Regions from separate parts of the Homo sapiens genome. Here region 2 is linked to region 1. Evidence: fine-mapped expression QTL. A gene starts in region 1. The other region holds a variant in brackets. All regions are shown on one strand. Distances are between the middles of the regions.

Evidence for each region. PIP is the estimated chance that this variant, and not a neighbour inherited with it, causes the effect. A credible set is the group of variants that fine-mapping cannot tell apart.
Region 2: its variant is the best candidate, but not a certain one, in a credible set for the expression of SCD5 in NK cells (Gilchrist 2021, PIP 0.55).

Annotation. Positions count from the first base shown.
Region 1 is chr4:82,794,641-82,809,737 of GRCh38, forward strand. It overlaps SCD5 (stearoyl-CoA desaturase 5), which reads right to left and starts at 4,156. Exons shown (of 5, transcript NM_001037582.3): 1 at 3,666-4,156. The coding sequence starts at 3,897. RefSeq lists enhancers at 2,382-2,903, 3,880-4,597, 4,598-5,314 and silencers at 3,712-3,761, 4,092-4,511.
Region 2 is chr4:83,225,642-83,241,693 of GRCh38, forward strand. No RefSeq gene overlaps it. Among named protein-coding and RNA genes, the nearest start is that of COQ2, 51 kb to the right of the region's middle. RefSeq lists an enhancer at 9,899-9,948. The variant C/CAAAA (reference allele first, on the strand shown) is at 7,257.

The sequences.
Region 1 (15,097 bases):
ATTCTGTCCATTTTTTTTTTTTTTTTTGAGACGGAGTCTCACTCTGTCGCCTAGGCTGGAGTGCAGTGGCGCAATCTCGGCTCCCTGCAAGCTCCACCTCCCAGGTTCACGCCATTCTCCTGCCTCAGCCTCCCGAGTAGCTGGGACTACAGGTGCCCACCACCACGCCCGGCTAATTTTTGTATTTTTTTTAGTAGAGATGGGGTTTCACCGTGTTAGCGAGGATGGTCTCGATCTCCTGACCTTGTGATCAGCCCGCCTCGGCCTCCCAAACTGCTGGGATTATAGGCGTGAGCCACCATGCCCGGCCGCTTTCTGTCCTTGAAAGTCATGAACGCATTGCTGAGGACCTGGGGGCACCAAGAGCATTCTGTCCTGACAGCCTGCCCACTCATAAAACGAAAAGGATAAAAAGGGAAAACAACATGCTCTGGCCCCAAGGAGAACTAACAACTTGATGAACTAACAATTTGATGGCTCTTTCACGGATGACATTTTACCACCACACAAATTACTCTCTGCACACTGCACATCCAACACATCCCCTGCTGGGTGCACTGCATAGATGCCTCTTGTTTCCAGCACAACCTCATCTGGTGTGGAGGGTGGCAAGCAATGGACAGGCTAAGCCTATTTCCTCTACAAGTCAGGTCCTTGAAGTGCATGAGCAGCCCACTGGGGCATGAACTTGGCCCTAATGCTACACATAACCAGTAGGGAGGTGGTGAAAAAGGGCCTTCAGTGGGGGGAAATTTGTGGATCAAGGCACCAGGGCTTTCACTGAAAATAACCCTGAGTCAGTGGTCTGCCTCGTCCCTCTGCTTACTATGTAGCCTAGCCATCAGCACAGCTGATCTTAGCTGGTCTCTGATTGTCCCTCATTTCTTCCCTCAAAAGCTATTCATGAGACTGGGTACAGTGGCTCACGCCTGTAATCCCAGTACTTTGGGAGGACTGCTTGAGCCCAGGAATTCAAGACCGGCCTGGGCAACATGGTGAGACCCCCATCTCTACAAAAAAATGAAAAAGAAAATAGCCAGGTGTGGTGGTGCACACCTGTAGTCCCAGCTACTTGGGAGGCTGCGGTGGGAGCATTGCTTGAGCCCAGGAGACTGAGACTGCAGTGAGCTATGATCGTGCCACTGCACTCCAGCAAGACCCTGTCTCACAAAAAAAAAAAAAAAAAAAAAAAAAAGCAGCAGAGGCAGTAGCTATTCATCAGATAAGACCCATTGTTTGGACTGTTTCTAAGTCACAATTTTGGACCTTAAAACTCTAATATCTACCATTGTCTGCTATTTTTTTTTTTAGGGAGGCAATGAAGGTGGGGAGAGAATTAAGACTTACGGGCCGGGCGCAGTGGCTCACGCCTGTAATTCCAGCAGTTTAGGAGGCTGAGGTGGGTGGATCACGAGGTCAGGAGATTGAGACCATCCTGGCTAACACGGTGAAACCCCATCTCTACTAAAAATACAAAAAATTAGCCGGGCGTGGTGGCGGGCACCTGTAATCCCAACTACTTGGGAGGCTGAAGCAGGAGAATGGTGTGAACCCAGGAGGCGGAGCTTGCGGTGAGCCGAGATCGCACCACTGCACTCCAGCCTGGGCGACAGAGCGAGACTCTGTCTCAAAAAAAAAAAAAAGACTTAGGAAATAGCAGATGAAGCACAGGCAGAATTTATCCAGGAAGGTATGGAATGGGGTTTGGGACATGAGTCACAAAGGGGAAACCAGATTCCTTCAGTGTGTTAACTTCTCTAAGGAAGCTAGAGGACACTGGGGCCTGGGAGGTGTCCTCTAAGCCAAGATCTTTCAGAACAAAGGTTCTATCTTCACCACAGAGAGCGGTCCGGAAAGGGCAGAGGTGACCTGGCAAACTTGGAGAGAGGGGCCTTGTCCTTGTGGCTCCTGGTCCAGTGCCAGGGTCTTGGGGCTCAGAGGCTGTAAGAAGTGGAGCCAGTGAGCCCTAGGCATGTAAGATAATATTTTAAGTGCTCACTTTTCCCTGAGCACTCTCTGAACACCACAGCTATTAAAGATAAGCCTCAATCCCCTAGAGGTCACCAGGCTCTGAGGACCAAGCCCAGCCCTGCCTCTGGAAGCAGGGGGGAGAGAGGAGCTTGTTGGAGAACTCTGGGCAATAAGGGCTTTGGTTGGCAGTGTCGGAGTGTGTTGATGAAGCAACAGCTGAACATCATACAGTCTACAGTCAGTTGGAGAATTAAACCAACACATAAAGGTGATGGTGAAAAGGACACAGAAATGAGGAGGTGCACTGAGAGAAGGAAAGATGAAGCAGGAGATTTCCCAGAGCTTTGGGGAGACTTTAAAGGCTTTAGGGATCCCCAAAGATCCTACCTCTCTCACCATCCGTCAACTCTGCTATGCCCTCCCTGAGCCACACCCCCTAAGAGGTACCCACTTCTGGATGGGTTTACTTCCAAGAGCAGGGACTGCAGGATTTCAAGGGAAGGCTTGGAACCATAGTGGCCCCATTATCTACCTAGGCATTTGCAGCTGGCACCATGCCAAAAAAGCCCTGTAGAAAGAGGTCTTATTTTCTTCCTTCCTCTTCCCCTCTGGAAATAAAAGTAGGTTGTGTTTCTCCTGCCCGCCCCTAGAGATCAGGGAAACGGGAGCTGGAAGGGCATCTTGGATTACCTCGTCAAATTCTCACTCAGCATATCAATGCCTGTGCCTTTTGTCCTGGCTACTGCCGCTTCAGTAAAGGAGGCCAAAACCAGTTATTGCGGCCAGGGCGGCTGCGAAGTGGTTCAAAGATCAACGACTGGGGTCGTGTAGGGTGGGCACGCAGTCCCTGGGGCCCAGGGGAAGGGGAATGGTGGTCGGCGCCCGGGCTCCCTTCCCTACTGGCAGGAGTGGGGGTGCACGGAAGGAGGGTACCAGGAGAGCCACAGGTTCCCACTGGCCACATGGGAACAGGGTTTGGAGAAGGCTCTGCACAGCCACAGTCGGAGCTTCGTGCTAGGGTCAGACCGCTCTCGCCATGGGATCGGTTTGCTCACCGAGAAACTTCACCGAGAACTGCAAATGGGCATAGAAGATTGCGGAGGGGGCAGGGACAGGGGCCTTGGAGAGGCAAGAGGGGAACCGGTATCTTCCATCTGGTGCGCGTAAACCAAGACTCTATCCTGTGCCGGGTCTCTCCTCCCCGGTCCAACTCCCTTACTTGTCCTCATCTCTGTCCCCAAGGTCCGTGACCCGCGGAGGTGATGGGGGGGATAGGAGAGCCCCAGGGACCGCAGAGGTGACACAATCGCCCGCCCGTCCTCCCTCGCTGGGAGCCGATTCAGCCTGTGCCGAGCCTCTCCCTTCGCGCGCCTCTGCGCACAGCGGTGGCACCGCAGGACTCCGGGTCCCCCCCGGCTCTCCATCGGGAAGCCGGCAAATGCGCTTCCTCAGGCAGACCGCGGCGGGGTGGGGGCGGGGGGGGGGCGGAAGTTGAAATACTGGGACAGAAACACCTGCCCGTCCCAAGGGACGGAAAACTGGATGCCAAGGGGGCCGCGGCGCGCAGCGGGAGGCGAGGGGAGACCGGGGGTCGCTGCGCACCGCCCGCAGCCGAGGGGCGAGCGGCGACCTCGCGCGCCCCAGCGCGGCCTGGCCACGGAGGCCGGGGCGCAGGGGGCGCCGGCGGGACTTACCCCAGAGCAGAGTGAGTGGCTTGGCTTTGGGGATGAGCACCAGGGAGTACACGGCCCCCAAGTGGAGCAAGCTCATCAGGACGACATTCCTCCAGACGATGTTCTGCCGCTGCCCGCGCGCGCCTGGCCTCTCCGGGCCGCCGCCGCCCTCAGAGCTTTCGAGCCCGGCACGGATTTCTTCCTTGGCGTCGCAGAAAGGGATCTTCCCCGCGTCGGTGGCCGGGCCTGGCATGGCTGGGCGAGGTGGGCGCCCGCAGCAGCGGCAGGCAGGCAGGCGCTCTGCCCGAGCGGAGCTCGAGGGTGGGGGCGGGGGCTTCTGCCTTTTAGGGGGGAATTCTCCGCACGTCCAGTCCCCTCCTTCCAGCCCTTCTCCCGGGCTCCTGCGCTCTTCCCCAGGGTCTTAGCGTGGCCTAGGGATGCAGATCTTGGCGGCCGGCGTCTGTTGCTGGCGTATCCCCCATATGGCTGCCCGGGCTGAACTCGGCCGCGAGAAAGAGGAGGCGCGCGCGGGGCGGGAGGGGCGCGCGGCCGGGGAGGAGGAGCTGTGAAAATGGAACGGGGCCGGCGACGCTGGAGGGAGCGCTCCGAAGGAGCGCGGAAGAAAGCCCTGCTTAGCTACAGCCAATCAGGAGCGCCCGTGCGGCGCTTATAGACAAAGGCGCCCCCCTTTCGGCTTTTCGGGGCCGAACTGGGGAGCCCGCTGGGCGGGAGTTGGCCGCCTCCGCCCGGGGGCGGGTGGAAGGTGGCTCCCGGGGCAGGGAGCCTGCAGGGCGGCTCACAGCGCTTCTGCTCTTGTGTGTGTGTGACCCCCAAAATGCCTTTTATGGTATTTTTCCAGTCCCCCCCCCAAAAAAAAACTTCCCGAAACTGTCATCCCTTTGAGAAGCCTTTTATTTCTTCTCAAGCCTCAGGCCACCTGGGTTGGAGAATTTTAAATACTTGCTTGGAGTCGCGACCCTAGTTAAGGCCAGACCCACGATGAGAATCAGAAGTCCCTCAATCTGCCAGTTAGTAGGGCTCCTCGGGCCAGGGGAGGGTTGGAAGGCAGCTGCTCGTTCTTAATTAGGCAGCTGTGGATTACCCAGGCACACAGTAAGTGCTCAGTTGGTGCTTGTGAGGTGATGCACAGATGATTTGGGCCAGTTCGCTGCCCACCCTTTGCCCATCCGCCGCGCCACTCTGTTTATGGTCAATTCTAGCTAATCAGCGCACTTCTGCAACGCCTCCTTAGCTCTCAGTGAGGAACACTACCCTGAAATCAACACCATTGAGAATCGGGCTTTACAAAAAAATCACCCAGAATGTTCCAAGGAAAATTAACCTGTGAAAGATTTGTGTCTGCCCACTTCTCTCCTAGAGCTGATGGCTTAAGAGCTCTCCAGAGAGGACCCTAGTTGCACAGAAAATGGAGGGAGGATTGAGCTGGAAGTGTCTGAAGCAGGTGTGACCGCAATTGCGGGCAGGCAGCAGAAGTAAAAGGGCTCGGGACAGCATCTCTGAGTTCTAGTTTTAACTGGCTGGAACCCAGCCCAACTCTCTGGGCACGGATTTCCTTACCTGAGAAGCAGAACTAGTTTCTACTCTTCCTTCCAGCTTCCATATTCCATGAATGTGAGTTCGAAGGGGCGCCATTATATTGACCAAAACCAGCTGATTTTTAGATTAACCGTTGTTAGGAATCATTTCCAGGATTTCAAGAGAGGCAAAAAAATTTAAAAGACTGACTGCATGAAAGGGCCATGCATAAGCATCTTATTGTTAGCAGACCTGAGCCAGTCCTAGCAGCCAGACAAAACAATGCCTGATTTAAGCTAAAGCAAGGTATGTGGCACTTGTGGAATCTAGGCCACTGAGTCAGTGTTACTGTGTTGCTTCAGACGGAGCTGAAATTATAGAATTTGCCTGGAGACCAGATAAATGTCGGCCCTATATAATGACCAGTCAGACAGTGGAACATGAAGCTGGAGGGTGCGATTTTCATCTGTCTGTTCAACCTGGGCTATGTAATGAACCACGTTTTCTTCTCATGCTCCCTCTGCTCCCCATACCCAGCAGACCTTCCTACTCCCTGTGGCTCTCTAGTTCAGACTGTCCTTTCTCTCTGGGGTAGACTAGTTGCTCGGCCAAAAGCCTCTCTCCGGGTTATTGGAAAGGCTCAATGCTGTAAAGACCCTCATTCTAAACATTCAGTCATTTATTTGGCATTTATTGGGCATCTGCTATGTGCCAGGACCAGTGGGCACAGGGGATCCAAGGATGAATAAAGTCTGGTCCCGCCCCTAAAGGAGCTCCCATCTAGAAGCAAAGATGGAGCAAACAAATGTAACCTCTTGACTATGACCTTGGAAGGGCAGAAAGTTACAGTCCATTATCGGAAAAAAAAATTTAATTAGGTATCAAACTTACATACAAGGAGTCTAAGGGAAGCAAAAATAGTTCCTTATTGTCCCCCCTGAGAACCTTATTAGGTCAGCTGTTCTATCTTGAATCCATCTTTTGTTTGTTTGTTTGTTTTTGTTTTTGAGACGGAGTCTCGCTCTGTTGCCCAGGCTGGTGTGCAGAGGCCTGATCTCGGCTCACTGCAAGATCTGCCTCCCGGGTTCACGCCATTCTCCTGCCTCAGCCTCCCGAGTAGCTGGGACTACAGGTGCCCGCCACCACGCCCGGCTATTTTTTTTTTTTTTTTTTTTTTTGTATTTTTAGTAGAGACGGGGGTTTCACTGCGTTAGCCAGGATGGTCTCGATCTCCTGACCTTGTGATCCGCCAGCCTTGGCCTCCCAAAGTGGTGGGATTGCAGGCGTGAGCCACTGTGCCCGGCCCTTGAATCCATCTTGAATGAACATCTTTCTCTTTTCCCTCCTGTGGGTCAGACCAGGTATGACCAGTCATTTCAGCTGGCTGTCCTCATAATGGAGAAGATGTTTTTGTGTGTTGAGGGAGGAAAGAAGTGTTACTTAGGTTTGTCAGAGCCTGCCTATAAAAGGATTGTTGAAGAAAAATGGTCCTTCCAGGTCCAGCCTCAGAGTGAAACATCTACAAGATCCAAGATATATTCTTGCTGATAACGACGGTCCTCTTTAGCCAATTATGCCATAGGGGTCACTGCCTCTTTTCTCTGTCTTGCCAAAGACCCTAGTATATTTTCCTAGCTTCTAGTCAGGACCCCAGGAGTGGATAAGTATTCACCTGTCCCAGGATGGGGCAAATGGGACAGTAACCCTTATCCTGTCAAACACGTAATTACCAAAAATGTAATAAGAGCCATAATGGTGGTATACGCAAGATAATGTAGAGGTGCAAAGGAGGGAGTTGTTAATTCACACAGAAGCAGGGAGGAGGGGGAGTGATACCTGGGGAAGGATTTTTAAAAAATATTTAATTGTGGTAAAATACATGTAACATAAAATGTATGTAACAAAATTTACCACTGTAACCGTTTTTAAATGTACAGTTCAGTAGTGTTAACTATATATGCACATTACTGTGCAACCGATCTGCAGAACTTTATCATTTTGCAAAACTGAAACTTTATGCTCATTAAACTCCCCTTTCAATCTCCATCCAGATGCTGGCAACCACTGTGCTACTTTGTTTCAATTAGTTTGACTACTCTAGATACATCATATAAGTGAAATAATAGAGGATTTGTCTTTCTGTGACTGGCTTATTTCACTTAGAATGTTTTCAAAGCTCATCCAGGTTGTATGTGTTAGAATTCCCTTCCTTTTAAGACTGAATAATATTCTATTGTATGGATATGAATTTTGTTTATCCATTCATCTATCTAACAGTGGACATTTGGGTTGCGCCACCTTTTGGCTACTGGAAATAATGTTGCTGGGAACATGGGTGTACAAAGATCTCTTCAGGACCTGCTTTCAATTCTTTTCGGTATATATATGTATATCCAGAAGTGGTATTGCTGGATCTTATGGTAATTCTATGTTTAATTTTTTGAGGAACTGTCATACTGTTTTCCATAGTGGCTGCACCATTTCATATTTCCAACAACAGTGCCCAGCGGTTCCAATTTCTCCAAATCCCCACTGATACTTTTTCTGTTTTTTAGATAATAGCCATCCTAGTGGGTAAGGAGTGATATCTCATGGTAGTTTTTATTGCCCTCCCTTAATAATTAGTGATATTGAGCATCTTTTCAAGTGCTTGTTGGTCATTTGTATACCCTCTTTGGAGAAAGATCTATTCAAGTCCTCTATTTTTAAATAAGGTTTTTGTTGTTGTGGTTGTTGAGTTGTAGGAGTTCTTTACATATTCTGAATATTAACCTATCAGATATATGACTTGCAAATATTTTCTTCCATTCTGTAGGTTTCCTTTTTCACTCTGTTGATTGTGTTCTTTGATGCACTGACATTTTAAATTTTGATGTAGTCCAGTTTATCTATTTTTACTTATATTGTCTGTGCTTGTGCTTTTGGTGTCGTATCCAATAAATCATTGCCAAATCCAGTGTCATGAAGCTTTTCCTCTATATTTTCTTTTAAGAGTTTTATAGTTTTAGCTATAAAACTTACATTTAGGTCTTTAATATACTTCGAGTTAATTTTTGTGTATTGTAGAAGATAAATGCCCAGTTTCATTCTTTTATGTGTAGATATCCAGTCTTCCTAGCACCATTTGTTGAAGAAACTATCCTTTCCCCATTGAATGGTCTTGGCTCCCCTGTTGAAGATCAGTTGACCGTATATATGAGAGTTTTTTTTTTTTTTTCGGCTATTTCACTCCATTGGTCTGTATGTCTGTCTTTATGCCAGTACCACATTGTTTGAATTATTGTAGCTTTGAAATCAGGAAGTTTTGAAATCAGGAAGTTTGAGACCTCCAACTTTGTTCTCTTTTTTTTTTTTTTTTTTTCAAGATTGTTTTGGCTATTCAGGGCTTACTGAGATTCCATACCAGTTTTAGGATCTTTTTAGGTCTGCCAAAAATGATATTGAGATTTTGATAGGGATTGCAGTAAACCTGTATATAACTTTAATTAGTATTTTCATGTTAATGATATTAAGTCTTCCAATCCATGAACATGGCATGTCTTTTCACTTATTTATGTCTTCCTTAATTTCTCAGCAGCATTTTGTAGTTTTCAGTGTACAGTTATTTTGCCTCATTGGTTAAGTTTACTGGGTAAGGATTTTGAAAGATTGTTGTTTAATTAAAATATATCATGAGCCTCAAATTCAAGCCACATGTGTAATTGTAATGTAGCCACATTAAAAAGGTAGAAACAGAAAAAAACTTTAATAATATATTTTATTTAACTCAATGTATCCAAAATATTATCTTTTCAATGTAAAATCAGTATAAAATTATTGATACATTTTATACTTTTTTCATACTATGTCTCAAAATTCCATGTTTCCACTTAACAACACGACACACCTTAATTCAGATTAACGACAAGTGCTTGTAGCCACATATGGCTAATGGCTGTCATGTAAGACAGCACTGTTGAAGTATGAATAGTTCAAAGAAATGGTAGGGGATATTCCAGGCAGAGAAAAGTGCGTAAGTAAAGTTTTTGCACTTGGCATTCAGGGAGGTATATGGAATATCTGAAGTGAAAGTAGGGAAGCGTAGGAGATGAAGCTGAAATGCCATGCAGTGGGCAGCAGATGAGGGTACGTGGGTGTCTTGAGTGCCGTGCAGACAGAGCTATGAGGTAGGTGAGGGGAGCCACAGAAAGACTTTATGTAGCACAGTACTGGGATCAAGTTTGCACTGCAGAAAGACCACTCTGGAAGAGAGTGGGGAATGATTGTATTGGGGGTGCAGAGAGCTAAGATTGAAGGTGTGAAGATCAGTTAGGACACTATTTTAAGAATCTGTTGAGCAATGATGAGGGCCTGAATTAAGGCAAGGGCACAGATTCTGGAGAACAATAAATAGAGAAGATGGAATCAAGCCAGAGAAACTCAAATGGAAGAGTCAAAGAGATTTGATGCTGGATTAAACATAAAGAAGGAGGAAGAAAAATCTAGATTCTTTTTGGGTCTCTGAACTGGGTATTCAGGTGAAGGACAATGTCACTCACTGAAATACTAAGTTTGTGTTTATTTCCTCTCTTGTAAAGTGAGAATAATACCTACCTTATAGTATTCCTGTGACAACTAAAGTCAATATCCATAAAGTGATTAGAACAGTGCCTGGCACATAGTAAGGAATTAGTAAATATTATCACCATAATCATAATCATTTTTGAGATAGGAACTGAAGAAATAAATTAAAGAAGAAAATGAATTCCTGTTTTAGACATTCAAGTGAAACTTTGGGTGGATTTTTGAATATATAGGTGCCTGGAGCTTGGCAAAAAGTCTAGGCTGAAAATAACAATTTAGTCATGGTTCAATATAGTAAAATCCATGTCAGTAGAAACAGTTGGCCAGGAAAGGTAAGAAGAGAAAAGGGCTCAGGATAGAATCCTAGTGAAACACTATTTATGAACACAGCAAAGAAAAAGAAGCCAGTGGTGTGAACTGAGAAGGGAAAATGAGAGAAGTGGAAGAATCAGCAGAGTGTGGGAGAGCAGGATTCGCAATGTCGAAAATGTTATGGAAAGGCCAGGAAAGAAGGGAAATGAAGAGCACACTGTATACAAAGGTCATGGCTGACATTTGCTGAGGACTTTTCAACGAGTGATGGGAACAGACCTTGCACAGAGGTGACTTTAAGAACAAGAGGGAGGAGACAAGCATGGAACGCATATGTAAGTTAATTTTCCTAGATGCTTGGCAGTAAAGAGGAGAGGGATAGAGAAGCAAAGTTGAGTGTGTGCTTTCTAGGGCTGGATGGGATCAGGTGAGCAGATGGTTGGGCTAACTTAGAGCAGAGGGACAGCTTTTCATTGGAGACTGGAAGGAAATGAGGATGAAGGGAGCTTACAGAGTGGGCCAATAAAGTAAGGGAGGGTGCCATGATGGCCTGTTTGCTCTGAAGGGAAGATCAGGTGTCTGCTGGACAAGCAGAGTGGGAATTTGGTAAAGAGTTGGGAAAAAGTGATGAAGGCCTCCAAAAGCTGTTGAGAAAAATGAGAGAGGAAGCTGATCAAGAACATTTAAAAGGTTGCCTGGCCTAATTAAGGGCCCAACTAAGAATGGTTGCCACAAGCTTAAACTGGCTTAGTCTGCACAGTTGTGGTTACACAGCATCCCTCAGCAGTCTGATGGAATATCCATATTGAAGTTGTAGGGTGGGTTTGATGGGAGGACAAAGGATCCAGGTACTTGAGGAAATATGACTAGAAGGAAGCTAAGATGTTATAGACAGTGGAGGAATCAAGGGAACCAAGGTTTTGAAGAAATTGAAGAGAAAATCTGTTTATTAGGGAATGAAAATAAATGAAGTAATGGCCATTATGCCCCAAGAGTGGGATCTGGGACTTGAGACCTATGGTTGTGAAAGAGTTTCCAACGATAAGCTCCAAGGTGAGGCCACAGGATTATAGTGGAGGGTTGGCAGTTCCTGGAAATGAGGAAGATGAAGTATTATGGACAGGACCTCCAAAGGGGGTTGAAATCACAGGCTGCATCCAGATTTAGCTGGAGAAGATTGTGAGCTGGGTGCCCAAGGGGACTTCCTAAAGAAAGACAAGTAACAGCTTTCAAATGTCAATGAACAGTTAGAAGATTCTAAATACAAAACTAGCAGCTCTGAGATGTATGAGGACAAGACCATCACAGCCAGAATTCCTGGATTCTGGCCAGCAGTGCATACCTTGGAGTAGAAGTTGCTTCTGGTAGAGAGGATAGAAAGAAGACAGAAAGTATTATATGTTAATGCTACCTACAAAAACTGTGTGTGAGAGAGAAACATGATGAGGCATGTGGTCTGGTATGATCAGGAGGGCTTCGTGGAGGAGGTGGCAGCAAACAAGGCCCTGGAAGATAGGTGACTTTGCAGAGACTCCCACTTGGATAATAGCCTAAGAATAGGCTTAGATATGGGGGTGAGCCTAGCAAAACACCTAGCACTTAGATAAGGTTGTATTTTGGCCAGGCACAGTGGCTCACACCTGTAATCCCAGCACTTTGGAAGGCCAAGGTGGGTGGATCACTTGAGCCCAAGACTTTTAGATTAGCCCGGGCAACATGGCAAAATCCTGTCTCTACAAGAAATACAAAAAATTAGCTGGGTGTGGTGGCATGCACCTGTAATCCCAGCTACTTGGGAGGCTGAGGTGGGAGGATCACCTGAGCCTGGGAGGTCAAGGCTGCAGTGAGTCATGATTGTACCACTGCACTCCAGCCTGGGTGATAGAGCAAGAACCTGTGGAGAAAATGCAGGCTTTAGGGAGGGAGGAAAGAGCAAGAAAAGATCCATTCTTGAAGTTAAAAATTTACAATGATTCTCAGATCTATGCATTTCTCAAAAAAATGCAGATTTTGTCTACAGGACAAAATCACAATCTTGTGAAAATGACCTAGGTTTGGCAGTCTAAAACCTGGGTTTGCAGGTACATGGATTGGAAGAATCAATACTGTTAAAATGTCCATACTGGCCGGGCGCGGTGGCTCATGCCTGTAATCCCAGCACTTTGGGAGGCCGAGGCAGGTGGATCACGAGGTCAGGAGATTGAGACCATCCTGGCTAACACGGTGAAACCCCGTCTCTACTAAAAATACAAAAAATTAGCCAGGCGGGGTGGCAGGCGCCTGTAGTTCCAGCTACTCAGGAGGCTGAGGCAGGAGAATGGCTCAGGAACCCGGGAGGCGGAGCTTGCAGTGAGCCGAGATTGCGCCACTGCACTCCAGCCTGGGCGACAGAGCGAGACTCCGTCTCAAAAAAAAAAAAAAAAAAAAAAAAGTCCATACTACCCAAAGCAATCTACAGGTTCAATGCAATCCTCATCAAAATACCAATGACATTCTTCACAGAAATAGAAAAGACAGTCCTAAAAATGTACATGAAACCACAAAAGGCACAGAAAAGCCAAAGCTATCCTGAGCAAAAAGAATAAAACTGGAGGAATCACATTACTTGATTTACAGAGCCATAGTAACCAACACAGCATGACACTGGCATAAAAACAGACACATAGTCCAATGGAACAGAATAGAGAACCCAGAAACAAATCTATATATCTACAGTGAACTCATTTTCGACAAAGGTGCCAAAGGCATACATTAGAAAAAGGACAGTCTCTTCAGTAAATGGTGCTGGGAAAACTGGATATCCATATGCAGAAGAACAAAACTAGACCCCTATCTCTCACTATATAAAAAATCAAAATGGATTACAGACTTAAATCTAAGACTTTAGACTATCAAAGTACTACAAGAAAACATTGGGAGAAACTCTGCAGGACATTGGACTGGACAAAGACTTCTTTTTTTTTTTTTTTTTTTTGAGATGGAGTTTCACTCTTGTCACCCAGGCTGGAGTGCAATGGCACAATCTTGGCTTACTGTAACCTCTGCATCCTGGGTTCAAGCGATTCTCCTGCCTCAGCCTCCTGACTAGCTGGGATTACAGGTGTGCTCCACCACACCTGACTAATTTTGTATTTTTAGTAGGGTCCAGGGTTTCACCATGTTGACCAGGCTGGTCTCAAACTCCTGACCTCAGGTGATCTGCCCACCTTGGCCTCCCAAAGTGCTGGGATTACAGGCGTGAGCCACTGTACCCAGCCAGATTTCTTGAGTAATATCCCACAAGCACAGGCAACCAAAGCAAAAGTGGACAAATGGGATCACATCAAGTTAAAAAGCTTCTGCACAGCATAGGAAACAGCCAATAAAGTGAATATGGAACCCACAGAATGGGAGAAAATATTTGCAAACTACCCATCTGGCAAGTGATTAATAACCAAAATATATAAGAAGCTCAAACTCCACAGGAAAAAAATACTGATTTTAAAATGGGCAAAAGATCTGAACAGACATTTCTCAAAAGAAGACAAACAAATGACCAACAGGTATATGATACAATGCTGAACATTATCATCAGAGAAATGCAAATCAAACCTACAATGACATATTATTTCACCTCGGTTAAAATGGCTTTTATCCAAAAGACAGACAATAACAAATACTGGTAAGGATATGGAGAAAAGAGAACCCTCATACACTGTTGGTGGAAATGGAAATTATTAATAATATCATTGAGGACTCTGAGTAAAAGGTATAATTTCTCTATGATTTCTTATAACTGTATATGAATAAATAATTACTTCAAAATTAATAGTTTAATTAAAAATGTGAAGTGGTTGAAGCATTGCATTCAAGGTTTATTCACCCATTCATTCATAGAATATTCCAGAAATATTTATTGTATATATGTTTATAAGTATGCTTATATAATATAAATATATAAAATATAAAATATAAATATATTTATATGACCCAGCAATCTCACTGCTAGGTACATACCCAAAAGAAAGGAAATCAGTACATGGAAGAGGTATCTGTACTCCCATGTTTATTGCAGCACAATTTAGAAGCAACCTAAGTGTCCATCAACAGATGAATGGATAAAGAAAATGTGGTACATACACTCAATGGAGTACTAGTCAGCCATAAAAAAGAATGGGATCCTGTCCTTTGCAACAACATGAATGGAACTTGAGGTCATTATGTTAAATGAAATAAGCCAGGCACAGAAAGGCAACCTTTACATGTTGTCATGTATTTGTGGGAGCTAAAAATTAAAATGACTGAACTCATGGAGATAGAAAGTAGGACAATGGCTACCAGGGAAGGGAAGCATAGTTGGGAAAGATAGTGTGGCAGGGGAGAAAGGGGGATGGTTAATGGGTACAAAAATATAGTTAGATAGAATGAATAAAATATAGTATTTGGCCGGGCGCAGTGGCTCATGCCTGTAATCCCAGCACTTTGGGAGGCCAAGGCGGGTGGATCACCAGGTCAGGAGTTCAAGACCAGCCTGGCCAAGATGGTGAAACCCCATCTCTACTAAAAATACAAAAAAATTAGCCAGGCATGGAGGCGAGCAACTGTAATCCCAGCTACTCGGGAGGCTGAGGCAGAGAATTGCTTGAACCCAGGAGGCGGAGGTTGCAGTGAGCCAAGATCACACCACTACACTCCAGCCTGGCTGACAGAGCGAGACTCCGTCTCAAAAAAAAAAAAAAAAAAAAAATATATATATATATATATGTATAGTATTTGATTGCACAGCAAGGTGACTACAGTCAATAATAATTTATTGTACATTTAAAAATAACTAAAGGAGTATAACTGGATTGTTTGTAACACAAAGAACGATAAATGCTTGAGGTAATGGACACCCCATTTACCCCAATGTGATTATTATGCATTGCATGCCTGTATCAGAATATCTCATGTACCCCATAAACATGTATACCCACTATGTACCCACAAAAATTAAAAATTAACAATAAAAAAAAGACCTGGGTTGAAGTCTGGCCCTCCCACTCTGAATTGGCACATCCAAG
Region 2 (16,052 bases), 430 kb after region 1:
TCCTATGACCATCCTCTTCAGGACAGAAAAGTAGAAAAGGACTTCTGGGAGGTTAGGGAAATAGTCCAAAGCAGCCTATTTTAAACTCCCTAAGCTCAAATTTTCTTTGAATTTGCATGCTTCATTTAAAAAATATGTGTGGATTTACATTTTACTCCATTAATATATCTGCAATTGTCTCAGCATGAAAGCGTTTTTACATTGTGTTAATATCACCACATAAAATAATTCCTGTAAGTTCTGATCTGTCCTGTGCACTTTGCCTAACTCAGCCTTCTACAGCATATCTCTGGGGATATATTTACCCACATTTGAGAAACAGCACCTTGAATTATGTATAATAAAATGAAGATGTTAACACTTACGAAGTCTCAATAAATTCTTTGGCTATTTTTGTAAAGAAAACTAAAGAACTTTTCCAGGATCTATCTATATATCGTCTGTCTTTCTGTTTCCCGATGGTGACAAAGAATCACTCCACAGATTGTTCACTAATTGCAAAAAGAAAAGAACTGTTACCATAGAGAGACCTGGCACTCACCATCTTAACCAAGTGCTCAAACAGTGTCCTTAACACCTAATGGAGCATTCCAATCTTATGGGGAAAAAAGCAGGGGAACTAAAGAGATATAATAACCAAATGCAAATATATGATGGGATACTGCTCTGGAAAAACACACCTATAAAAGACATTTATGGGATTTGTGAAATTTGAATATAAACTGTAAATTAGAGGATATTATCAAATTACTATTAATTTTTAGATATAAAAAGGGTATTGTTTATGTATGAGACTGTCTATATTTCTAGGAGAAGATTAATGTATTAATATTTATAGGTGAAGTGTCTTTTTTTTTTTTTTGAGATGAGTCTCGCTCCGTCGCCCGGGCTGGAGTGCAGTGGCGTGATCTTGGCTCACTGCAACCTCCACCTCTCAGGTTCAAGCGATTCTCCTGCCTCAGCCTCCCAAGTGGCTGGGACTACAGGCATGTGCCACTACGCCCAGCTAATTTTTGTATTTTTAGGAGAGACGGGGTTTCACCGTGTGGGTTGGCCAGGATGGTCTCGATTTCTTGACCTCGTGATCTGCCTGCCTCGGCCTCCCAAAGTGCTGGGATTAAAGGTGTGAGCCACCACGCTTGGCAAGTGTCATGACTTCTACAATGTACTTTCAAAAGGCTCAGCCAAATATAGACAGACAGACACATAGACATACACACACACACACACACACACACACACACACACACACACACACACACAGAGAGAGAGAGAGAGAGAGAGAGAGACAGAAAGAGAGAAAGAGAGAGACAGAGAGAGAGAAAGAGAAAGCAAATATGGTAAAATGTTAACAAACAACCATTGAACCTGAGCAAAGGATATATGGGTCTATTGTATTTTCTTTCAGCCTTTATTAGAATAAAAGGTTTGAAAGAAATAAATTCAATATCTAAAAGAGTTTTGTGATTCTACCAGGAAAGAAGGATATAGAAAAACTGCAAAATTCCATCTAACTCATGGTCTTCAGAGCTAGATAACAGACACTATATTAAAGACTTGCAGAAATATGGACGCTGACCAAGCAGACTGGATGGGGATGTGGTCCTCTGTAATGAGGCAAAAGTAAGAAATAGAGATGTAGACTATGTGGACTCTAAGGGCTACAGGACCACCCCTTGAGAATCACTCTAAGGAGGGCTCTGTATGTTCCATCAAGGTCACCAGCAACATTCAGTCATCCTCCTGGCAAGGAATTGTCCTGGAAAGGCATCTCTCAAATTGTTGGGTTGACACAATGGTCTCCCTGGTGAATGTTATGGGCTGAATTGTGTCTCCCCCTCCAAATTTATATGTTGGAGCTCAAACTCCGAGTATCTCAGAATGGGACTTATTAGGAGATAGGTCCTTTATTTATTTTTTATTTATTTTGAGACAGAGTCTTGCTCTGTTGACCAGGCTGGAGTGCAGTAGCACAATCTTGGCTCACTGCAACCTCCGCCTCCTGGGTTCAAGTGGTCCTCCCACCTCAGCCTCCCAAGTAGCTGGGACTACAGGTGCATGCCACCATGCCTGGCTATTTTTGTATTTTTAGTAGTAGATATGGGGTTTTACTATGTTGGCCAGGCTGGTCTTGAACTTCTAACCTCAGGTGATCTGCCCACCTCAGCCTCCCAAAGTGCTGAAATTTCAGGTGTGAGCCATCATGCCTGGCCTGGAGATAGGGCCTTTAAAGAGGTGACTGAATTAAAATTAGGCCATTAATGTGGGTCCTAATCCAATCTGACTGGTGTCCTTATAATAAGAAGAAATTTGGGGTGGGGCTGGTGACTCATGTCTGTAATCCCAACACTTTGGGAGGCTGAGGTAGGAGGATTGCTTGAGGGCAGGAGTTTGAGACCTGCCTGGGCAACATATCGAGACCCCCATCTCTATAAAAAATACACAAATTAGCCGGGCATGGTAGTGTACACCTGAGGAACCTGAGCGGGAAGAATTGCTTGAGGCCCGGAGGTTGAGGCTGCAGTGAGCCATGATTGCACCACTGCATTCCAGCCTGGGCAGCAGAGCAAGGCCCCAACTCAAAAAAATAAAAATTAAAAAAAATGAAAAATTTTTAAAAAGAGGAAATTTGGACAGAAAAATAGACACTAAGGATGTATATACACAGAAGAAAGACCACCTGGGGACACAGTGAGAAGGCTGGTCTCTGCAGGCCAAGAAGAGAGGCCTCAGAAGAAACCAAACCTACTGACTCCTTGGACTTTCCAGCCTCCAGAACTATGAGAAAATAAATTTCTGTTGCTTAAGCCACCCAGTTTGTGGTATTTAGTCATAGCAGTTCTTGCAAACTAATATGGTGGGTAATCATATTCCAACCTTGCGAAGATTTAGATTTAGGAGTAGAAATGTTTAAGAGGATATTATCTACAGTATTCATATTTTTGTATTAATGTGTACATTACTTACTGTAAGTAGTTGCAATGTTTAAGAGAATTTGGTCTGTTGAAACTAGAGATCAGTCTTGTGTTTCCTAAACACCAAAGGGAGTGACTTACATTCTAAGTCAGATTGTTACTAAGATCTTTTAAGAACTTAAAAATCACCATATTTATGTGTTTGATCTACTAGATTTGTATGCATTATTTAGGTTCCCAGGAAAGTTTTGACATTAAATTGAATAATTATTGATATTAAGAAAATAAATAATGTTAAATTTATAAATGCACTTTAAGAGGTTTTAAGGAGTTTATCTAATAGCATTTGTTAATGGAACCAAACCATATTTAGGCCCTTCAAGTGCTTTTAAAATTTGCTATATTTCTGAAAGAACAACAAGAATTCTAAGTTGAACTTAAATCTTAAGGTCAATGAAGTTTTTTTTTTTTGAGATGGAGTCTCGCTCGCTCTGTCACCCAGGCTGGGGTGCAGTGGGGTAATCTTGGCTCACTGCAACCTCCGCCTCCGAGGTTCAACCAATTCTCCTGCCTCAGCTTCCTGAGTAGCTGGGATTACAGGCGTGCACCACCATGCCCAGCTAATTTTTGTATTTTTAGTAGAGATGGGGTTTCACCATGTTGGCCAAGCTGGTCTCGAACTCCTGACCTTGTGATCCGCCCGCCTTGGCCTCCCAAAGTACTGGAATTACAGGCATGAGCCACCATGCCTGGCGGTAAGCGAAGTTTTTAAGTTGTAACTTTAGTAAATTAAATATTAATTTTTAAAGCTAAGTAACCTCTGAATAACCTTTTTTGATGCATAAAAGCCAACCTCAAGGGCATCAAAAGAGTCATCTACGTTTATATTTGAACTCTGTAACTTCTGAATAATGTGCAAAGCATGTCCTCTGGGATCCGAGGGACCAGGTGTAATGGGGTTAAGTTGAATTCAAAGCTTGAACACGTAGCCTTCTTGTTTTCTGTAACTATTCTCTTCTTGTCCAGAAGGCCCCGTTTCCTCTGATGGCGAGATAGAGTGATGAAGTGAAGGTAGATCACCAAACATAAACTTTCCAAGTAAAGGTAGCCAGAGTCTACTTTGGGGTTAACCTAATCTCTTTTGGGGAAATGCTCAGCGTTTTAGGCATTTTCTTCTCTCCTCTTCCCTTAGCCAAGATGGCCTTGGGGAGAGGGAAAGTTTATGCACTCACGTGGCATTGGTGGTGTTGTGGCTGGTTCACAGTGGGCTTTTGTTTGGCCCAGTGGGCACTTGCTGGGCTCTTGTTGCAGTGTTTTGTCCCACTGAAACCAGGTCATTGGTCTCTGATGTCATCGCCTCCTCTTGACCTCCAGTGGCATTGTTGCATTGCCTCGGAGCTCTGCAGGCTGACTAGGCCTTTTGGACTTTCCAGTTTTATCCAAAGCACACAGGAGGCCCCTACAAAAGAACACTCCCCAGGAACCTTTGTCTCAGGAAATCTTTCCAGCGTCTGCCTCTGAACTACTCTCTGTCCTGTCCTCTACTCCAGACTTTTCCCTTGTGATTAAGTTCTTGTCTCCTTGGACTAGGTCCTTTGTATCAGACAGAAAGCTGCCCTTATGTGGGTGGGGGCATAAGTCTCTCTTTGGTTCCACCCTATAACCCTGGGCCAGCCCTTCTTATTCTCAAGCAGAGTCCTGGATCCTGAGACCCTAGTCTGAACCTGTATCCCATCCCCATAATTTGAGTAGGTGAAGCAAAAATGAATCTGTACCCCATCCCCATAATTTGAGTAGGTGAAGCAAAAATGATCAAATCTGGCCAGGCATGGTGGCTCATCCCTGTTGTTCCAGCACTTTGGGGGGCTGAGGCGGGAGAACTGCTTGAGCCCAGGAGTCTGAGACCAGCCTAGGCAACATAGTGAGACCTTGTTTCCACAAACAAACAAACAACCCAATCTGTGAATGCCAAGATTGCTTAAGAATTAACAAATAGCATTTGAAAAAGATGTAAGAATTGTTAGGAACATAAAAGTTATAGGATACTAATTCCTTTAAAATAAAAATGCAAAGTTTCTTCCTAATTAACTTTTTTCTAACACTTAGGTTTGAGATAATTAGAAGAAAAGTTTACATATAGATTAGCGTCACTATTAGCCAAATAGTGCCTTTATAAAAATCACAGAGAGGCCTTTTTCTCTGGTGGTGGGGTGTGGCATAGAGTCCTAAGCAGGACTCACAGCTTGGCAAGGCAAGAGGAGCACAGACTGGATTTTGGTCCCTACTCACCCGTCAGGTGGTTGCTTTTTGGTAATAAACATCCTGCCCAATCATACGAAGTGGCCTGATATAGATGATATTTATTAACTACATGACCTTGGGCAAACATCTCAGTCCTTAGAACTTTAGATGCCTCATATAACAAGTGAGAGGGGCTGACCTCTGAGGTCCTTTGTATCTACAAATACTATGCTCCACGGCATCAGTAATTTTTTTTTTCTTTTTTTTAACTAAATGAGAGTCTTCACAGAAAGTAGAGGAAGTACCAAATGCTGGCCACCGGAAGGAACCAGTCTGAAAAGTAGAAGTGACAGAAACCCATGGGCAAAAGTGGTCAGGTTATTCTAGAGTTCATGATAGGGAGAGTTGGACATCATTAGATATATATCCGAGACTTTGGTAAGACACATCTAAAAATTTTTCCTAAATAATAAGATTCCCTGGACAGAGACTCCCAAAGGGAAGATGACAAGTGTTTGGGAGAAGTGCTGCAAAATGAAATCTCTATCTTCCAAACAGGATGATGTGGAACAGAAAAAAAGGGGGAGAGTTATTTAAAGAGAGACACACTTGGCCAGGCGTATTGGTTCAGGGCACTTTGGGAGGCCGACACAGGTGGATCACTTGAGGCCAGGAGTTCAAGACCAGTCTGGCCAATATGGTGAAACCCCATCTCTACAAAAACTAAAAAAAAAATAGCTGGATGCTAATGCTCTGAGATGACAGATTTTTGGAACTGTGGATGTAAAGCCCATAGACCTTAACATTAGTGTGTCCAGTCCCATGACATTTCATTAGCTTATGGCTTCTGCTCCAGAGACTCCCACCATTTCCCCATTGATAAGGGAGAGGAAGGAGGAAGTAAGAGATTATTTAAAAACAGTTGTGAAACTACCAAGGTCTGTGGTTGAGAGTTGGTTTTCTAACCAACCTTTGTCTAGTCTAGTCTAACCTTTGACTACAGACATCATATAAGGGACACGGTTGCCTCAGATGCAGAAGATATCAGGAAGGGCTGATTTGTTCCACACTATTTGACCACACTGATTGCAACAGGATGTGGACATGTTTTGCTATGAGTGTGTCCTAAAACATTGGAAAGAAACCCCACATCCTGTCACCCTCCCTGAGGGCAAGGACACTTAGAGTGGAGAAATCTGAGGTTTAACCTGTGCTGGGGATGATGACTGATACAACAAAGGATATAGGACCTCACCTAATGAATTTCAAAGATTGCTGATGTAAGATGCACCAAGAACAAATGTTGGTGTCCTGGTAGTAGAGCAGGGGACCCCTTGTGAGACCTGTCTTTGATCTTGGGAACACAAATCTTACAACATATTTATGACTGTGAAGGCAAAAGAAATCTTCAACGATGAGGTCTGGAAATTCTGAATATTCTATGCAAAGTATTAGAATTTCACAAGAGAGGACTTTGCTCAGAAGAGAAAAATGAACAGGCACCAAGTGGTAATTCACAGAAGTGTCATTCCCATGCTCTTAACTCTCAAGTGTGTTTTGAGATCAGGAAACATGGAGTCCTTATTCTCACTGTGTCCCCTGTTTGAAGACTGATTAATTAAGATGTCATTCATGACATGGTGAGCCATCTTGAGATATTTGAATATCCTGCCACCATGGGAACCCAGACCTACCTCTGGACTAATTATTGGGAGGGGATTGTGGGAAAGAATAATGACTGGGAAATAGAAATCTTTAAGATGCTCTTGAGCAGAACAAATTTCTCCTCCAATAAAGATGTCCATGTGTTTGTATTTGGCATGGATAATACCATGTATTCTGTAACCCCAATTCTTTAGTATTAGCTCTTTGTGAAAACCTTCTTAGAAACAAGGTGATTTCACTAGATTGTGTTTGGGGGCTATAATTTTATGATCCTATGAAAGATTGTCCCCTACTTTGCCACTTCTGCCAATAAGACCTCTATGTCCTGTCTGCTCTCTTGTTCCCCCAAATAAAGCTTGGATTTCTGTACCATTAACTATCTGCCCAGCATACAAACCTTTAAGTAAGAAAGAAAGCTTCCTCTTAACCTTCATC[C/CAAAA]AAAAAAAAACAAAAACACACACAAACAAAAGAAAATCTGAACTAGGAATAGAGAGCTTTGGGGCTTCTTAAGTACAATGACTAATAAAATATAAACATACTTGCTGTCTCCAGGGGGTTTATAATTAAAATCATAATGTATATTGACATTGTTTATCAGGGTAAAGACTATACTAATTGGCAGGAATAGAATACTCTTTTCTTTTTTTCAAAAGTATAAGTACTGAAAAATTTGACCAATCTCTGTGTTCTACTTACTACTTCTAATGAAGACCTGACAATTCTACATTAATTTAACAGTAACTTTAAGCATTGGATATGTTGATTTGTAATTATCAGGAGAGACTGAGATCAAGCATTTATGTTGGTATATACATTACTAAAAATGATACAAAAATAGGGCTTTAATAAAATGAAGAAACTTTTTTTTATTTATATGCACCTAACAGAAACTGAGATCAGTATGTGCAACCTATGTCTCTGCCAAATTTATCCTCCTTCCAGCCCTACCTTGGAGAGGGGTAATCATCTAAAATTAAACTATTTGCAGACAATTTTTCTTGGAAATGTAATGTTAACAGAGGCAATTATTTTTCTTTAGGCTATAGAAAAACAAATTTTTATTTATTTATTTTTTATTTTAAAAAATAATGGAGTGGCAGGGTCTTGCTGTGTTGCCCAGGGTGGGCTTGAATTCCTGGGCTCAAGTGATCCTCCCACTTTGGTCTCTCAAAGTGCTGAGATTACAGGCATTACTGGCCTAGAAAAACAAATTCTGAATAAGTATGATAAGACAAATTCCTTGCCAGCAACTCAATTTTAGAAAATATAGTTTTTAATCTCAGGTAGCTTGGGATGGCAGAAACAAACTGTCTTACTGTTTATTCTTGAAATATACACTAAGAAACCTATATTCATAAGAAGAACTCTTTTAAAAGGGATAACATTTCATAAAAACTTTATTATTGACTTACATTTAACATATGAGCTGTAGTATTCTTCTAGAATTTTATATTCGTTTTTATTTTCTTGAGTTTTTTTGTTTTTGTTTTTGTTTTGTTTTGTTTTAGTTTTTGGTTTTTGGTTTGTTTGTTTTTTTGTTTTTTTTGAGACAGGGTCTCACTCACTCTGTCACCCAGGCTGGAGTGCAGTGGCATGATCTCGGCTCACTGTACCCTCGACCTCCTGGGCACAAGCAATACTCACTCAGCCTCTTGAGTAGCTGGGACTACAGGCACATGCCCCCATTCCTGGCTAATTTTCGTATTTTTAGTAAAGATAGGATTTTGCCATGTTGCCCAGGCTGGTCTCAAATTTCTGAGCTCAAACAGTCCTCCTGCCTTGGCCTCCCAAAATGCTGGGATTCCAGGCATAAGCCACCATGCCCAGCCTATTTTTTATTTTCTTGAATATTAAAGGCATTCCATGACTATTGAAGTCAACTAGTTTAAGTCTAATGAAGACCTGATTAAAGTTAAATATTTACCAAAATAAAAACAATTATTATTACCAAAGTAACACCAATCTTTAAAAATCATTCCAAAAAATTAAAGTATCCTGCAGGGACTATATTCAGCATGAGAGATGAAGTAGGGAATGTCAGGACTCTGAGCCTAAGCTAAGCCATCATATCCCTAGTGACCTGCATGTATACATCCAGATGGCCGGTTCCTGCCTTAACTGGTGATATTCCGCCACAAAAGAAGTGAAAATGGCCTGTTCCTGCCTTAACTGATGACATTACCTTGTGAAATTCCTTCTCCTGGCTCATCCTGGCTCAAAAGCTCCCCCTCTGAGCACCTTGTGACCCCCCACCCCTGCCCACCAGAGAAAAACCCCCCTTTTTCCTTTACCTACCCAAATCTTATAAAACGGCCCCACCCCTATCTCCCTTCCCTGACTCTCTTTTCGGACTCAGCCCACCTGCACCCAGGTGAAATAAACAGCCTTGTTGCTCACACAAAGCCTGTTTGGTGGTCTCTTCACATGGACGTGCGTGAAAGGGAATTTGTCACAGAACATTCAGCAGACAAACTTAAAGAGGGAATTTTAAACTAGCTTTCAGAACCTAGGCTCAGAGGCAGTACTCAAGTGAGGTCCTGCTGCAGATGACAACTGCAAAAGAAAATGAACATTGATTTTCTCCAAGTTAGACTCATTTATTTAGCTGTTACTCATAAAGTAGAAGCCAGGTAAGCAGTAGTGTTGACTCATACATAATTTGCAAAAGAGTTGATAAACTCGGACAACAGCAGTGGGACTGCTTTATAGTTTCAAAAGCCTCTTAACATCTTCTCTGTTTTGAGTGCATCATCTTCTCTAAGATGAATTATCTTCAGACCAAATTATATAAGTCAATCTGCAATGGAACAAGCTGGAGGAGATTTAGATTCACTATCTAGAGAAAAGTGTTCATTTGTTTAAAAGAAATACTTTAAACTGAGGGAATTCATCACCACTAGACCAGTCCTACAAGAAATGTTTGAGAGTCCTTCATCTAGAAGTGAAAGTGTCAGGCCTCTGAGCCCAAGCTAAGCCATCATATGCCCTGTGACCTGCACATATACATCCAGATGGCCGGAAGCAACTGAAGATCCACAAAAGTGAAAATGGCCTGTTCCTGCCTTAACTGATGACATTCCACCATTGCGATTTGTTCCTGCCCCACCTTAACTGAACTATTAACCTTGTGAAATTCCTCCTCCTGGCTCAGAACCTCCCCCACTGAGCACCTTGTGACCCCCGCCCCTGCCCATAAGAGAAAAACCCCCTTTGACTGTAATTTTCCACTACCCACCCAAATCCTGTAAAACAGCCCCACCCCATCTCCCTTTGCTGACTCTCTTTTCGGACTCAGCCCGCCTGTACCCAGGTGAAATAAACAGCCTTGTTGTTCACACAAAGCCTGTTTGGTGGTCTCTTCACATGGACACACATGACAGAAAGGATGATGTCTACCATCAAGAAAACACATAAGACTGTAAAACTCACTGGCATAGCAGATACACAAATGAGAAAGAGAAAGGAATCAAATGTTACCACTACAGAAAACCACCAAACCGCAATGATAAATAATGAAAGAGACAAAAGATCAATGAAACAAAAAGTTGGTTCTTTGCAAAGAAAAACAAAATTGATAAACTGCTAGCTAGAATAACCAAGAAGAGATAAGATCCAAATAAACATAATCAGAAATGAAAAAGGAGACATGACAACAGACACCAGAAATGCAAAAGGTCATCAGCGAGAATTATGAACAACTATATGCTCAAAAACTAGGAAACCTAGAGGGAATTGATTAAATACCAGGAAACATACTACCTTCTAAGATTAAACCAGGAAGAAACAGAAAACCTCAACAGACCAATAATGAGATTACATCATAATAAAAACTCTCCCCACAAAGAAAGGCCCAGAACTGGATCACTTTATTGCTGAATTCTATCAAGCTTATAAAGAACTAACACTAATTCTTCTCAAATCATTCCAAAAAATTAAAGAGGAGGGAAATCTTTCTAACTCATTCTGTAAGGCCAGCATTACCTGATGCTAAAACCAGACAAGGACACACAAAAAAAGAAAACTATGAGAGAAAAATATCTCTCAGGAACATAGATGTAAAAATCCTCATCAAAATACTAGCAAACTAAATCTAACAACCATCAAAAATATAATACACCATGATCAAGTGGGATTTATCCCAGGAATGCAAAAAATGGTTCCACATATGCAAATCAATAAATGTGATACATTAACCAAAGGAAGGACAAAAACCATATGATCATCTCAATAAACACAGAAAAAGCATTTGATAAAATTTAACATCCTTCATGATAAAACGTCTCAACAAGTTAGGCGTAAAAGAAACATACCTCAAAATAACAAAAGCCATATATGACAAACCCACAGCTAACATCATACCACCTGGGGAAAAGCTAAAAGCCTTTCCTCTAAGAACTGGAATAAGACAATGATGCTCACCTTTACTATTCTTATTCAACATAGTGCTGGAAGTCCTAGCCTGATCGATTAGGAAAGAGGAAGAAATAAGGACATAATCCAAGTTGGAAAAGAAGTGAAAGTGTCTCTCTTTACAGATGACATGATCTTATACTTAGAAAAACCTAAAGACTACCAAAAAAGTCTTACAAATGATAAGTAAATCCAGTAAAGTTGAAGGATACAAAAACCAATATACAAAAATTGGTAGTTTCTATATAACCAGGATGAACTAATTAAAAAGAAATCAAGAAAGCAATCCCGCATTTCCACCCACTTCCCCACCCAGTGCCACTCTGGCTACCCTGCACTCGCTCTGAGCTCCAGGCTTCTGCTAAGTTAGCAACACCATGGTCTCCCTTTAGCTGCTCTCATGATTACCTACCCTGGCATCATCAGCCACAATAGTTCAACATGTATAAGATTTGGGAGATTGCAGACAGGCTTGCCTGGAGTTGGAGGGAAAGATGGTAAGTAGGACGCAGGGTAACACTGATGACTTGTTCATTGGTGGAAATGCCTCTGCTGAAGGCCCTTAGGGCAAAGGTGCCTCCCAAAGTGCTGGGATTACAGGTGTGAGCTACCGTGCCCGGCCAGGTCTAAATATTTGTAACGAACTGTTAAATAAAATATGTTCTACCCTCACATCTTGACAAATACACTTTTATAATAACCTGGAAGGGCAGGTTCCTATTTAGAATTCTCAGACTTCTTGGGGTCTCCAGATTATGGAGACAGCTGGCTCCCTGGCTGCCCATCCCTGGTCTGAGGGCATTTCCTCTTTTATTTCTACCTATGCCCCATCCTACACTACAAAGGGCTTTGTGGACACATGTGTGGACACCTGATGCTGCATAGCTAAGCTCTAACCACACCCACTTCATAAAATGTGTGTCCCCTGGGCATCCTTAGCCATTAGGGTTGTGTACTCCAGCTGTGCAGTCTGCCCTTAGGAGGACTTAATCAGGAAAGAGAATGTACTAGCCCTGTAAATAGGCTCCAAGTGGTTTGGGCAGATAATTCTGCAGTCTAAGGCACCCAGACGTAGATGAATAGTATTCCATTGTATAGATCACTTTGGGTAATATGGACGTTTTAACAACTTTAATCCTTCCAGTCCATGAGCATGAGCTATCTTTCCATTTATTTGTGTCTTCTATTTTTCTAATTATTTTTTAAATAGTTTTCAGTGTACTGATTTTTGTGTGTTGATTTTGGATCCTACAACTTTACTGTATTTGTTTATCTTAACAGTTTTTTGGTGGAGTCTCTGGGGTTTTCTATATATAAGGACACGTTATTGGCAAACAGGTGTAATTTAACTTCTCCCTTTCCTATTTGGGGAATGTCTTTTATTTCTTTCTCTTGCCTAATTGCTGTAGCTAGGATTTCCAATACTATGTTGAATAGAGGTGGCAAGAATGGACATCTCTGCGTTGTTCTGATCTTAGAAGAAAGGCTTTCCATTTTCACTGTAGTGTATAATATTAGCTGTGAACAAAATCTGCATTTTTAAACACCTGTTAGATTCTTACTGGGAGATGTTGAAGGCCTCTAAAAGTAAGAGGTAGGGTAGGGCTTTGTGTTGCTGTTCCCCCCAGACTCACTAAATGTTTGCATGTTACCTTGGTATCCAGCCCTAGATGGAATTCTGCTACCGCTGTAATCATTAGCAAGCAGGCGTGCTCTTCTTACAAGCTCAGCTCAGTCCCTTAGGCACTGTATCGGATGAGATAAGGAAAAGCTGCTGTAATAATAATACAGTGGTTTAAAGCAACAGTCCAAGGTGAATGTTCCAAGGTGGCAGGTGGTCTGCTTCATGAGCCACTCAGGGGCTCAGGTTCCTTCCAACGTGATTCTGCACTACTCTCTGGGCCTTTTGTTGTCTGCATAGCAAAGTTCTAGCCAACCAAATGGCAAGAAGGGAACAAGAACTCAGAATAGGCATATTCATGTTCTTAAGGTGTAGGCCCAGAAATCTAGGTATACATTCTTCTACTCACATGCCATCAGGTGAAACTTAGCCACATGAATACAGCTATCTGTTAGGTGAGCTGGATTGGGTGGTGTAGCCAAGCACCTAAGAAGAAGAGGAGAATGGACTATTTGGTAGAAAACTGGTTGTCTCCACCATTGGCACACTGCCAAGTATCTTGCAGGAAAGAATTAATCAAGGCAGATGCAATAATATTCTAGAGCCAAGTTAAGCTCACTTACTATTCAGAATAGGTAGCAGAATCTTCAGGTCCAAATCAGAGCCTGAGCCACAAAGACCACTCTGAAAGATATAGATAGGCTGCTGGGCTCATAAATTTTATGCACTTCTATACATATAAGGACACAGATTCTTCTACAGTATTGCTAATTAATCCAAATATTTTATTTTATTTTTATTTATTTATTTATTTTGAAACGGAGTCTCGCTCTATCGCCCAGGCTGGAGTGCAGTGGCGTGGTCTCAGCTCGTTGCAACCTCTGCCTCCTGGGTTCACGCCATTCTCCTGTCTCAGCCTCCCGAGTAGCTGGGACTACAGGCGCCTGCCACCATGCTGGCTAATTTTTTGTATTTTTAGTAGAGATGGGGTTTCATCGTGTTAGCCAGGATGGTCTCGATCTCCTGACCCCGTGATCTGCCTGCCTCAGCCTCCCAAAGTGCTGGGATTACAAGCGTGAGCCACCGCACCCGGCCTCACACATTTTATTTTTTAAATTTAAGTTTATTTTATTTTCTTAGAGATGGGGTCTTGCTATGTTGCCCAGGCAGGATTCAAACTTCTGGGCTTGGCTGGCCATGGTGGTTCATTCCTATAATCCCAGTGTTTTGGGAGGCCAAGGCACGAGGATCTCTTGAGGCCAGGAGTTTGAGACCAGCCTGTACAACATAGCAAGACACCTTCTCTACAAAACAAAAACAAATCAAAAACAGACAAAAACCTCCTGTGCTTAAGGAATCCTCCCACCTCAGACACCTGAGAAGGATCACACACACATGCCACTGTGCCTGGCTAATCCACATATTTTAAACATCGCACATTTTGCCAACTGAAAACTATTTCTATCATTTTAAAAGTATATTAACAACTAGTACATTGAGATAGCAATAGTCAAACCACTTGTAACAGGTCCTCTGGAATGTGGAGACCTGAGAAAAACATTTCAAACCTATCCTGGAGAGTATATTCCTGATTAGGGCACTTCAAATGCTAAATTCCTATTTCTAGATTAAAAGTAACAAACACGCATATATCACATTGTCCAGGCCCTTGATGCATATTGAAAACATTCACACCACACACATACACTCACATACACATGCACACACGCAAACACGTGTGTGCACATACACACACATGCACACAGGAAATACAGAAAACTATGCACCAAAATAGAGATGATTATTATCACGTAGGGTCTATTTTGTGCAGGTATCAACATATAAATATTCCCAGAGGAATTTCATAATTCAGGATTTCGTGAAGATGACAAAAGAAGAATGACTGCATCTATTCTGAACTTTACCCAGTTTTGGAGTCCTGATGTCAGTCACTACTTCTTACTTTCTAAGGCACTGATGGTAACAATTAACTTCTGTGGCCAAAGGACTATTTCCAGGATGGCCTGGATCCTCTTTTTGCCATCCCACACTGCTCTCACACCACACTGTCTGAGATGTCTACTTCCTGCATCTGGGCCCTTATTATAAATGAAAGTAGTTCTTTGCTTTGGTCCTGGCTCAAAATATAGCCCTCAACTACTGAGTCTTTAGCAATTCCTTTGCATCTGATTGCAGATGCAATTGAAAATTGCAACATAACTGCAATTGCCTTGCCTGTGAAAAGGCAATATAACTGACGGTTGAAAGCGAAGATTCTTTCAGTTCCCTCAACTGAATAATGAGTTCGCAGATGTAAAGTGCTTAGGACAGCACCTGGCATGTAGTAAGTAGCACTCTGTGGGTACCGGCTGTTATCATTTCTCTATTATCTGTTTCTCCTGACAGACCTGTAGATAGTGGAACTTTGAATCTTCTTCACTTTATTTTATTGTTTTAATTAATTAATTAATTAATTAATTTTTTTTTAAAGACAGAGTCTTACTCTGTTGTCCTGGTTGGAGTATAGTTAAGCAATCATAGCTCACTGTAACCTCAAACAACTGAGCTCAAGCAATCTTCCTGCTTCAGCCTCCCAAGTAGCTAGGACTACAGGCATGCATCACCTCACCCAGCGAATTTTTAAATTTTTGTAGAAATGAGGTCTTGCTATGTTGTCCAGGTTGGTCTTGAAACCCTGACTGCAACGGATCATCCTGCCTTGGCCTCCCAAAGCTCTGGCATTACAGGTGTGAGCCACTGTGCCTGGCTTCCACTTTATTTTAAGAAGGAAACCACAGGTAAATATTCTTACACTTTTATCACTCTTGACACTACCCTTCCACTAGGTAACTGCAGGAACAGGGTCAGATGACTGCTGGGGTTGTTTTGAAACTTGACATGATTAAGCCTGTGATGCCAGGATAAAAAAAAATTACTTTTCTCTTGCCTTTTATCTGTTGTCTGTCTTTTAGACATTTAACTATCAGTCTTCCTACATAAAGGAATAAATGGGGTAAAAAAAAAAAAAAAAAAAGAGTTTTTCCCATTCCAAGCTGGCCAAATAGGAACAGCTCTGGCCTGCAGCTCACAGTGTGATTGATGCAGAAGACGGGTGATTTCTGCATTTCCAACTGAGCCTCTGCTGGTGATACCCAGGGGAACAGGGTCTGGAGTGGACCTCCAGCAAACTCCAACAGACCTGC